Regions from separate parts of the Homo sapiens genome. Here region 1 is linked to region 2. Evidence: fine-mapped expression QTL. A gene starts in region 2. The other region holds a variant in brackets. All regions are shown on one strand. Distances are from middle to middle. Region 1 overlaps TF (transferrin). Region 2 holds the start of SRPRB (SRP receptor subunit beta).

Region 1 (4,389 bases), 48 kb before region 2:
GTCCAGGGTGTGGCTGCTCCACCCTTAACCAATACTTCGGCTACTCGGGAGCCTTCAAGTGAGTGAGATGTCTGCTGCTCCATGGTGGCCAAAGTGCCAAATGTCCTCAGGGTGAGAGTTCTTTGCTGGTCCAAAGCCGAGCCCTGCCTGCCTACAGGGGCATCGAGGTGGCCTAATCCCCTCCCAGTGAGTCAGAAGCACAACCTGGGACTCCTAGGCCAAGCCAGCCCATGTTCCCTTTCATCTGACCCTGACAAGTAGGTCCTTTTCCTGGGGACCCTTCCTTTCTCCCCAGAGCCCTCAAGCCTGGTCAGTGTCTCCTCTCGGTGGATCGGGCAGAGCCTGAAAGGACAATCATGCCTCTAGTGTCTGGGCCCACTGTCCAGGGACTGGCCCTCTTCCCTCAATCTCAGCAGTGTTACCTGCTCAGCACACTGCCTGTCTCCTGCCCCCATCACCGTCTCTATCTGGGAAGCTGATTTCTTGCTTTCTCTTTTTACCTTGATTATATCCTAAAGTTTTACAACCAGCCAAAGGCACATTTTCACCCTCAGGAGACACTATACCATTATCTTCTATTCCAGAAGTTTAAAAGCTCTTTTCACATGAAAATATCTTCAGTTGCATTTTGCTTCTTTGGGTTATGAGGGCTTTTTATCTCGTGTGAGCTCATTCCCCCATCTCAGCACTACGCTGGAGGTCTGCACACCATGGTGTTGCTTCAGCTACGGGGCTGCACCAGGCTCTATCCTAGTGTGAGTGCTGGACAGTGTGATCAGACTCTCCAGGTGCAGGAGAAGGGCCTGCCCTGCAGGAGCCCTGCTGATGTGTTTCTTTGACCCAGGTGTCTGAAGGATGGTGCTGGGGATGTGGCCTTTGTCAAGCACTCGACTATATTTGGTAAGAATGGGACAAGAATCCACCAGGGCCACTCCAAGTAGTGGGTGTTCTTTTTCTGTGTTCCCTTTTTCATGCTCAGTAATTGGAAATGAGCATACTGTATTTCTCCTTTATCATTGCCTGGGTTTCCACCTGTGCAGAGTTAGGTACCTACGGGGTCCCCATCTGGATTCCTGGGCCTCTTTCCATCATTCAATCTCTCCACACGGTGCCTCTGCCTCTGGGGTAGTGTTGCCATAACCAAAGACTGGGGGTTGGTGCTGCTAAGATCAGGCTCATGGTGGAATGAGGAGCAATCACTGCTACATGGGCATCAGAAGCCTTTACCTGGCTGTGGGCTCTTGAGCGAGTCATTCTCCCGCATGTTCTCTGGCCTTCAGTGCTCACTCCAGACCTCTCAGCTCATACTTTCTATGATCAATTGAATTTCAAGGATGGGCACCACAGCCCATGGCTCTCCTGTGTTAAGCTCACCTGGGCTTTCCCTCCCCAGAGAACTTGGCAAACAAGGCTGACAGGGACCAGTATGAGCTGCTTTGCCTGGACAACACCCGGAAGCCGGTAGATGAATACAAGGACTGCCACTTGGCCCAGGTCCCTTCTCATACCGTCGTGGCCCGAAGTATGGGCGGCAAGGAGGACTTGATCTGGGAGCTTCTCAACCAGGCCCAGGTATCCCCACCTGCCATCCTCCCCTCCAGCTTAGTGCTCCCTGCTTGGATTTGGGGGTTTTCCTCCTGGCCATCTTGTCACTCTGGAAGTCTGTGTGTTCAGGATACAGTGGGAGCCATGCCACATGTCACTAAGTTCTCTAAAAGCTGGGACTCCCCACAGAGCAGCAGGGAGCCTGCTGTGGTGCTACCGTCTGCCGCCCTTGCCTTTCTGGCTGGTGACACCTGAAGAGGCTCTGTATTGCTCTGTTGCATTCCTTTCTACCTAAACTTCAAGGCCCAAAGCTAAACCCCTCCCCAAGGAGGCTTTCCATGACCCTCCCAGAAGGAAATGGTCTCTCTCCCCATGCCCCTCAGCCCGGCTGTGAGGGGGCTGCCTGCACAGCGGCTTTACTTCCCAAGAGCTGTGTGATTTGGGCTCAGCCAGCTTCCTCTTGCCGAGCCGTCCCATCTGTCCACTGAGAGTTTGACTGGTAACCACACAGGGCAGCCTCTGGATTAGCCACGTTTCTTGTTCTCACCGATGTCTCAACCCGTTCCGGGAGACAGGCACAGAAGCAGGTTCAGG[C/G]AAATCGCGGACCCACGAGGGCTACAGGCAGAGGAAGTGCTGGGTGAGCAGGAGCAGGTCCGACTGCCCTCTCTCCTGGCATCTTGAACTTTTTCATGTTGTTTCCTGCAGAGATTTCTTTTCTCTTCAGTCCCATTTCTCAGCCTCCTTTCTTCTGTGTTGCCATCCACTATTCTGTTTTTCTATGAACAGGAACATTTTGGCAAAGACAAATCAAAAGAATTCCAACTATTCAGCTCTCCTCATGGGAAGGACCTGCTGTTTAAGGACTCTGCCCACGGGTTTTTAAAAGTCCCCCCCAGGATGGATGCCAAGATGTACCTGGGCTATGAGTATGTCACTGCCATCCGGAATCTACGGGAAGGCACATGTGAGTACCTGGGAAGAACCAGGTGACCACAAGCACTTGGGAAACCTGGTGAGCACAGGGGCCAGAGATTGAGTCTTTTCAGGGACCTGCACGCCTCTCCTGATGCTCCTTTTTCTGACCTGTCTGTGAGCCCAGTGTTAGACTGATGCTGAATGGCGTTAGTCATTATGAGATGGCCTTGATGTCACCATGGGCTTTACAGGAAATCCACATTTAAAATGACGTGGGTTGGTTCCAGTATTTCCTTTGCATCAATCAGGACTGCCTTACCTACTCTGTGAAGGCAATTAGCTTATCACAGAGTAAGTGAAATAGAACAAAATTGCTATATATTGCACATCTCCAGCCAGTCAACATGTACCATAATGAAGAGGTGCTCTAAGAGAGGTTGATCCCAGTCCTGGATTTCACTGAGTCACTGTGGTTTTGCTTGACCATTCATTTATTCAGCAGACATTTATTGAACATCTAGCCATATGCTCTGCTAGGTGCTGGACATAGGATGGCATGACAAATATATATTTGATTCTGTTGTCCTGGAAATTTCAAACTGGGGAGAAGATAAATGTTTAATGAATAGTCATGCTATTGGATGATGAATTACAAAGTAAGAGATATGTTTAAAAGGGGAAAAATATGACAACAAAATACCATGGCCCTATGAGACTGCAAAACAAAGAAAAATAGGCCCTGGACTTGGCGTTAAGGCAAAGCTTCCTTGAGGAAGTGACTCTTGAGCTCAGTCTGAAAGATGAGCAGATGTACATTTATTCATCAGACATTTATTATGCTGACCATGTGCTAGCATTGCCCTAACCCTGAGGATGCCCTGGTGAACAAGACAGGCAGGGCCCTTTCTGTGTTGGAGCTTCTGTTCTCCTGCAGAAAACCTGACAATAAACAATGAACATATAAATAAGAACACCTCCAGTAGTTAAGTGCTATCTGAAAAACAAGAAGGAAAAAAACAGCCAGAGGTCATATAGTGCCCAGAGGCTGGAGAGGAAAGTTGGCTTCTCGGAAGACATAAAAAACTAAATTTAAATGAGAAGTCAACCAAGAGATTGTGCATTGACTTTGCTTTCTAAGGTGATTAATTCCTTGAATGGGGTCTGTTTGTTTATTGCTGGCAAATCCCAGCATTTGCATGAAGACAGTGAGTAGTGCTGACAAACACCAGGCAACAGCTAGGGCCGCTTCTGATCTTTGTTCTTTTTTTATGCCATAGGCCCAGAAGCCCCAACAGATGAATGCAAGCCTGTGAAGTGGTGTGCGCTGAGCCACCACGAGAGGCTCAAGTGTGATGAGTGGAGTGTTAACAGTGTAGGGAAAATAGAGTGTGTATCAGCAGAGACCACCGAAGACTGCATCGCCAAGATCATGGTATGTCACTCCAGCCTTCCTAGGGCAGCGTCCCTGTCATTGCTGCCTGCTGGCCCCCAAGACTGAGCTAGGGAGTGTTCCTGGGAATGATGCAAAAACCTGGCTCCCAGGAACCTTGCCCTGACTATGTGAGCACAGCCCCACCGGAGGTTCAGAATCTTTGAGCTTGTGGATCTGAAGGGTGCCCACAGGGCTCAGTTTCCTCCTTGTATGAGTGTATGGTGAAAGGGCAGGCTGAGCAGTGCCTGCTTAGGGAGGCTGGACCATGGTGTGGGTGTCCTGAGACCAGTGGTGTGCCACGATCACTGAGATAAGATCCTGAGTACATGGTAGGATCCAATCAGGTACAAATTTGCTTTGTTGATCAAAAGAGTATCCTAGCCTGGCATGGTGGCATGCACCTGTAGTCCCAGCTACTTCGAAAGCTGAGGCAGGAGGATTGCTTGAGCCCAGGAGTTCAGGGCTAGCAACTTAGCAGGACCTTGTCTCTAACAACA
Region 2 (4,389 bases):
GATCACAGCTCACGGTAACCTGGAATTCCTGGGCTCAAGCGCTCCTGCCTCAGTCTCCCAAGTAGCTGAGACTGCAGGCATATGCCACCATGCCTGGCTAATTATTTTTTAATTAAAGAAAATGTTTTAGGCCGAGGTGGGTGGATCACGAGGTTAGGAGATCGAGACCATCCTGGCTAACATGGTGAAACCCCGTCTCTACTAAAAATACAAAAAATTAGCCGGGCATGGTGGCAGGCGCCTGTAGTCCCAGCTACTCGGGAGGCTGAGGCAGGAGAATGGCGTGAACCCGGGAGGCGGAGCTTGCAGTGAGCCGAGATCGCACCACTGCACTCCAGCCTGGGCAACAGAGCGAGACTCTGTCTCAAAAAAAAAAAAAAAAAAAAAGAAAAAAGAAAATGTTTTTTGCAGAGACAGAGTCTCACTATGTTGCCCAGGCTGGTCTTGAATTCTTGGCCTCAAGCAATCCTCCTGCCTTGGCCTCCCAAAGCGCTGGGATTAATAGCTGTGAGTCACCGGGTCCTCCCCCAGTTCCTCTCTTTTTCCTTGTCCCTGTGCATGGTGAGGTTTTGTGTGGCCCTGAGTGGTATCAAGCTAAATAACAAGCAGAGAGGGACGCTCTAAAAGAAAATAATATTTATTCTGGAATAGGCATTGCAATGGGACTACGCATGCCATAGTCAACTATGTGCATATTCAGGGGGGTGTAAAGGAAGACAAAGATTTTTAAAGAAAAAATGAGTCAGATTCCATAATTGTTTTAAGATAATTATCCTTGGCTACAAGGATCAAATGGCAAGGATGGCATCAGTACTAGGTTGGACAGGGAGTTGCTGGGTAGCCGTCCTAACAGATGTATTTTTTTGTGTGTAAGGTTGCGATGGCCTTTGTGCAAGTCTGTGGTTTTTGCAGTCTTTTGTGACAGTTTTTGTCATCAGGCATGGGTGCCTGAGAACCCTCCCTCCATGGCCTTTCACCAGCTCCATTTTTCTGATTAAAAAAAAAAATACAAGTGACTCCATTTTGATGCTGACAACTTTTTCAATGGCAATGTGGAACTGTAATAAACTTTTTTCAATCTTTCAGTGACACTGACATCTTCATGTCTCTACTCAGCCATACAATTAAATTAAATAATGTGTACATTTTAAAACAATGACAGCTGTTTAATGACAGAGACTGTGAACTGGGACCCTCTAGGCTGGCCACTTTTGGTGTTTTATTTGGGCCACAAGTTTTTGAATGCTTTCAATTACCTACAGAAAATTTCAAAAGTGGAAAATTTCCTATAAAAATCTGCCTTTATTGCTTCTCTTGAAAACTGGAAGAACCGGCCACCCAGGTCCCATAACACCTACCTGGCTGAATAGGGTCGGCCCTACTTTCAGCAGAAATACCTCCTGCAGTTTTCAACAGCCCCAGCTCTCCTGGGCGTTGATTTTCCTAGTTGCTTCCTTTAATGCAGACATTTGAGTTTGCAGCCCTAGATTGACAGTGTAGGGGCACTGAATTACTTAGGGTTCCCACATACATCGTTTCTTACACTCATTTTCTTCTGCACAGCACCTTTTTTTCCTTTAACCACTCGCAGATGCTAACTCATTCTTCAGGACTCAATTCCAATGTCCAGAAGCTTTTCTCTGAACTCATGATGGACTCCGCGTCCCATTATGTATTCCCACATCGCTCCGTACATCCATCTGTCACATCCCTTGTCACATTAAATTCAGATTAAATGTTTGTAGGATGCTTGAGTTCTTCACAAGTCTCACGTCACTTAGCGACGGTCGGGAACTCCTCAGTGGTAGTTTCGGGAGCCATTCATTCATTTTATTCATTTCATCATTCTTTCAACAGTCATAACGTAGGTGACGACGACTGACTCATCTCTTAAAAGATGTGTGTGTCCCTCGACAAATAACCTGTCTGCCCCTATCGTTCTGTAGGAGGACGGAGTCCCAGAGAACTACAACTCCCATCAAGCACTTGGGGGATCGCCGCGGCTGAGGGAGAGACTATGGCTTAGGAACCACCATTCGCGTGAGGCTCTGCTCCCCGCGCCTGCGCAGAGTGCAGGGCCACGTCGCTTTTGCTGTACCGGGGACCACGCGTCTCATCCATGGCTTCCGCGGACTCGCGCCGGGTGGCAGATGGCGGCGGTGCCGGGGGCACCTTCCAGCCCTACCTAGACACCTTGCGGCAGGAGCTGCAGCAGACGGACCCAACGCTGTTGTCAGTAGTGGTGGCGGTTCTTGCGGTGCTGCTGACGCTAGGTAAAAGGCGGCCGGTGGTCATGGCGGGTTTGGGGCGGGCAGAGGTCCGGGCTTTGGCTGCACCGCTGCAGGCCGGGGACGCGGGGCTGAGAGGGCGCCTTGAGGGCATCAGGAGGGTGAGACCCACCCAGTCTACACCCCACCCTCTCTCCTGAAGCAGCGGCAGCAGCTGGGCGTTAAGGGGGATGCCGGGCAACCCCCGGAGTTAACGTCCTGGTCCTTGGGGCGCAGATTGCTCTTCGTCATCTGCCCTGTTACGCTTGAGCGCGCTGTTCCTCGCCTTCCGCTGTTCTCACTGCAAAGACTCAGGGTCTTGACACCAACTTTCAGCCTCCCGTGTTTGCGTGCGGGCGCTGGGATACCAAGGTAGTGAGATAGCACCTGAGTCCCAGTCAGAGTAAGGACTGCAAAGAAAAGTTGACAGTTGACAGTGCCTGGCTCTCAGTGGATCCCTAACAACAGCAATAGTAACCATTATGATAAAAGTCAGTTCCAGGTGAATGAGGTGTTTCGTCACAGACTTCTGTGAATTTCCCCACCCCAGCCATGCACATATACTGATTCCCAAGGCGTAATTTTTGTTGTTTTTCTCTGTCTATTCCACAGTCTTCTGGAAGTTAATCCGGAGCAGAAGGAGCAGTCAGAGAGCTGTTCTTCTTGTTGGCCTTTGTGATTCCGGGAAAACGTTGCTCTTTGTCAGGGTAAATGATTTCATTGACACCCCTGTTAAGCTTAATAGAAAATTTTATAGATCCCAGTATTCCTGTCATCTCACGGTTTATTTTGTAAAAGAAGCTGATGCTGTTAAATTTGGAAGTTAATTCTTGACTTACTTGGGAGAACAAAAAGACTCGTAGAAACCCATAATTGAGAAATATTGGTCATTTCTCCTTTTTTTTTTCTGTTTGCCCTTGCCAGATGCTGATATTTAGTCTTTATCACATTCAAGGATTTTATTTAATTAGTTTCATTCCAGAATAGCAGAAGGCATAGAAGCTAGTGTCCTACAGTTTATAATTCCTTCGTTAACAAATTCTTAGGACAGTTTATCGAAGACACTTTTTCACAGGGTGATCCTTCTTTGACATAGTGGGCTAGTTAGGCTTCTTTTTACTAATATTTATTTTTAATACATTTAGTATTTTTAACAGTGTATTTTAATGTGGTGAATAGGAGAGGTTTTCTGCTTTTTAACTCTTCTTTTTGAGAGTATAAATTATTTCCCTTCCATTAAAGAAATACCTCCATTTTTTTTTTTTTTTTTTTTTTGAGGGAGTGTCTCACTCCAATGCCCAGGCTGGAGTGCAGTGGCGAGATCTCTGCTCATTGCAGCCTTGACCTCTGGGACTCAGATGATTCTCCCACCTCAGCCTCCGAGTAGCTGGGACTACAGGCGTGCAACACTACGCCCGGCTGATTTTTTATATTTTTTGTAGAGATGAGATTTTGCCATGTTGCCCAGGCTTCAAATCATTTTTGTTGGTTAAAAATCTTTACAGAAGCTTGGCAAATTTGGCCACTAACTGTCTTTTGAGAATAATGTTGTTTTTATTCCACTGAGGAGTAAAATATGCAATTAATTAGATTTTTTTCTACAGGTAAAAAAAATCAATATCGTCTTTTTCACCTGTCGGAAGCAGCATTCATTTACTTAACCTTACACCTGGGAGACTTAGAATAATATAACTCAATTTAGGTGTGCTATTAAAATGTTGAATATCACCCATCTTGTTTTTTTTACAGTTGTTAACAGGCCTTTATAGAGACACTCAGACGTCCATTACTGACAGCTGTGCTGTATACAGAGTCAACAATAACAGGGTAAGATGTTTGTGGAGTTTTGGAGTCTGACAGTCTTACTTTACTGTGGTGTGTCAGTTAAGGACATTTTTAGGATGAGTTCATCTGAGGATGTAAGTACCATTTGTAGCTTATTTTTATGGAGAAACATATTCTTTGTGACAAATTCTCTTGACAATCTGTACAGTAGATTTAATCATGCCCTCCTCTGCATTGTTGTACCTTAATGTACAGTAATGTTATATCACATTTTATTCTTATTTTTTGTTTCTGTGTCTTCTTTCCAACTTTACAATGAGTTCTTAAGAGTGGGCAT

What was found. PIP is the estimated chance that this variant, and not a neighbour inherited with it, causes the effect.
Region 1: its variant is fine-mapped to the expression of SRPRB in esophagus mucosa (GTEx, PIP above 0.99).

Annotation. Positions count from the first base shown.
Region 1 is chr3:133,755,438-133,759,826 of GRCh38, forward strand. It overlaps TF (transferrin), which reads left to right. Exons shown (of 17, transcript NM_001063.4): 5 at 1-58; 6 at 845-900; 7 at 1,394-1,572; 8 at 2,332-2,509; 9 at 3,738-3,892. Among named protein-coding and RNA genes, the nearest start is that of TF, 11 kb to the left of the region's middle. The variant C/G (reference allele first, on the strand shown) is at 2,140.
Region 2 is chr3:133,803,730-133,808,118 of GRCh38, forward strand. It overlaps SRPRB (SRP receptor subunit beta), which reads left to right and starts at 2,086. Exons shown (of 7, transcript NM_001379313.1): 1 at 2,086-2,273; 2 at 2,880-2,974; 3 at 4,017-4,094. The coding sequence starts at 2,120. LOC105374116 (a long non-coding RNA gene) reads right to left here and starts at 1,754. Exons shown (of 3, transcript XR_924513.3): 1 at 1,359-1,754. RefSeq lists enhancers at 1,738-1,847, 1,938-1,997, 2,138-2,347, 2,458-2,507, 2,538-2,647.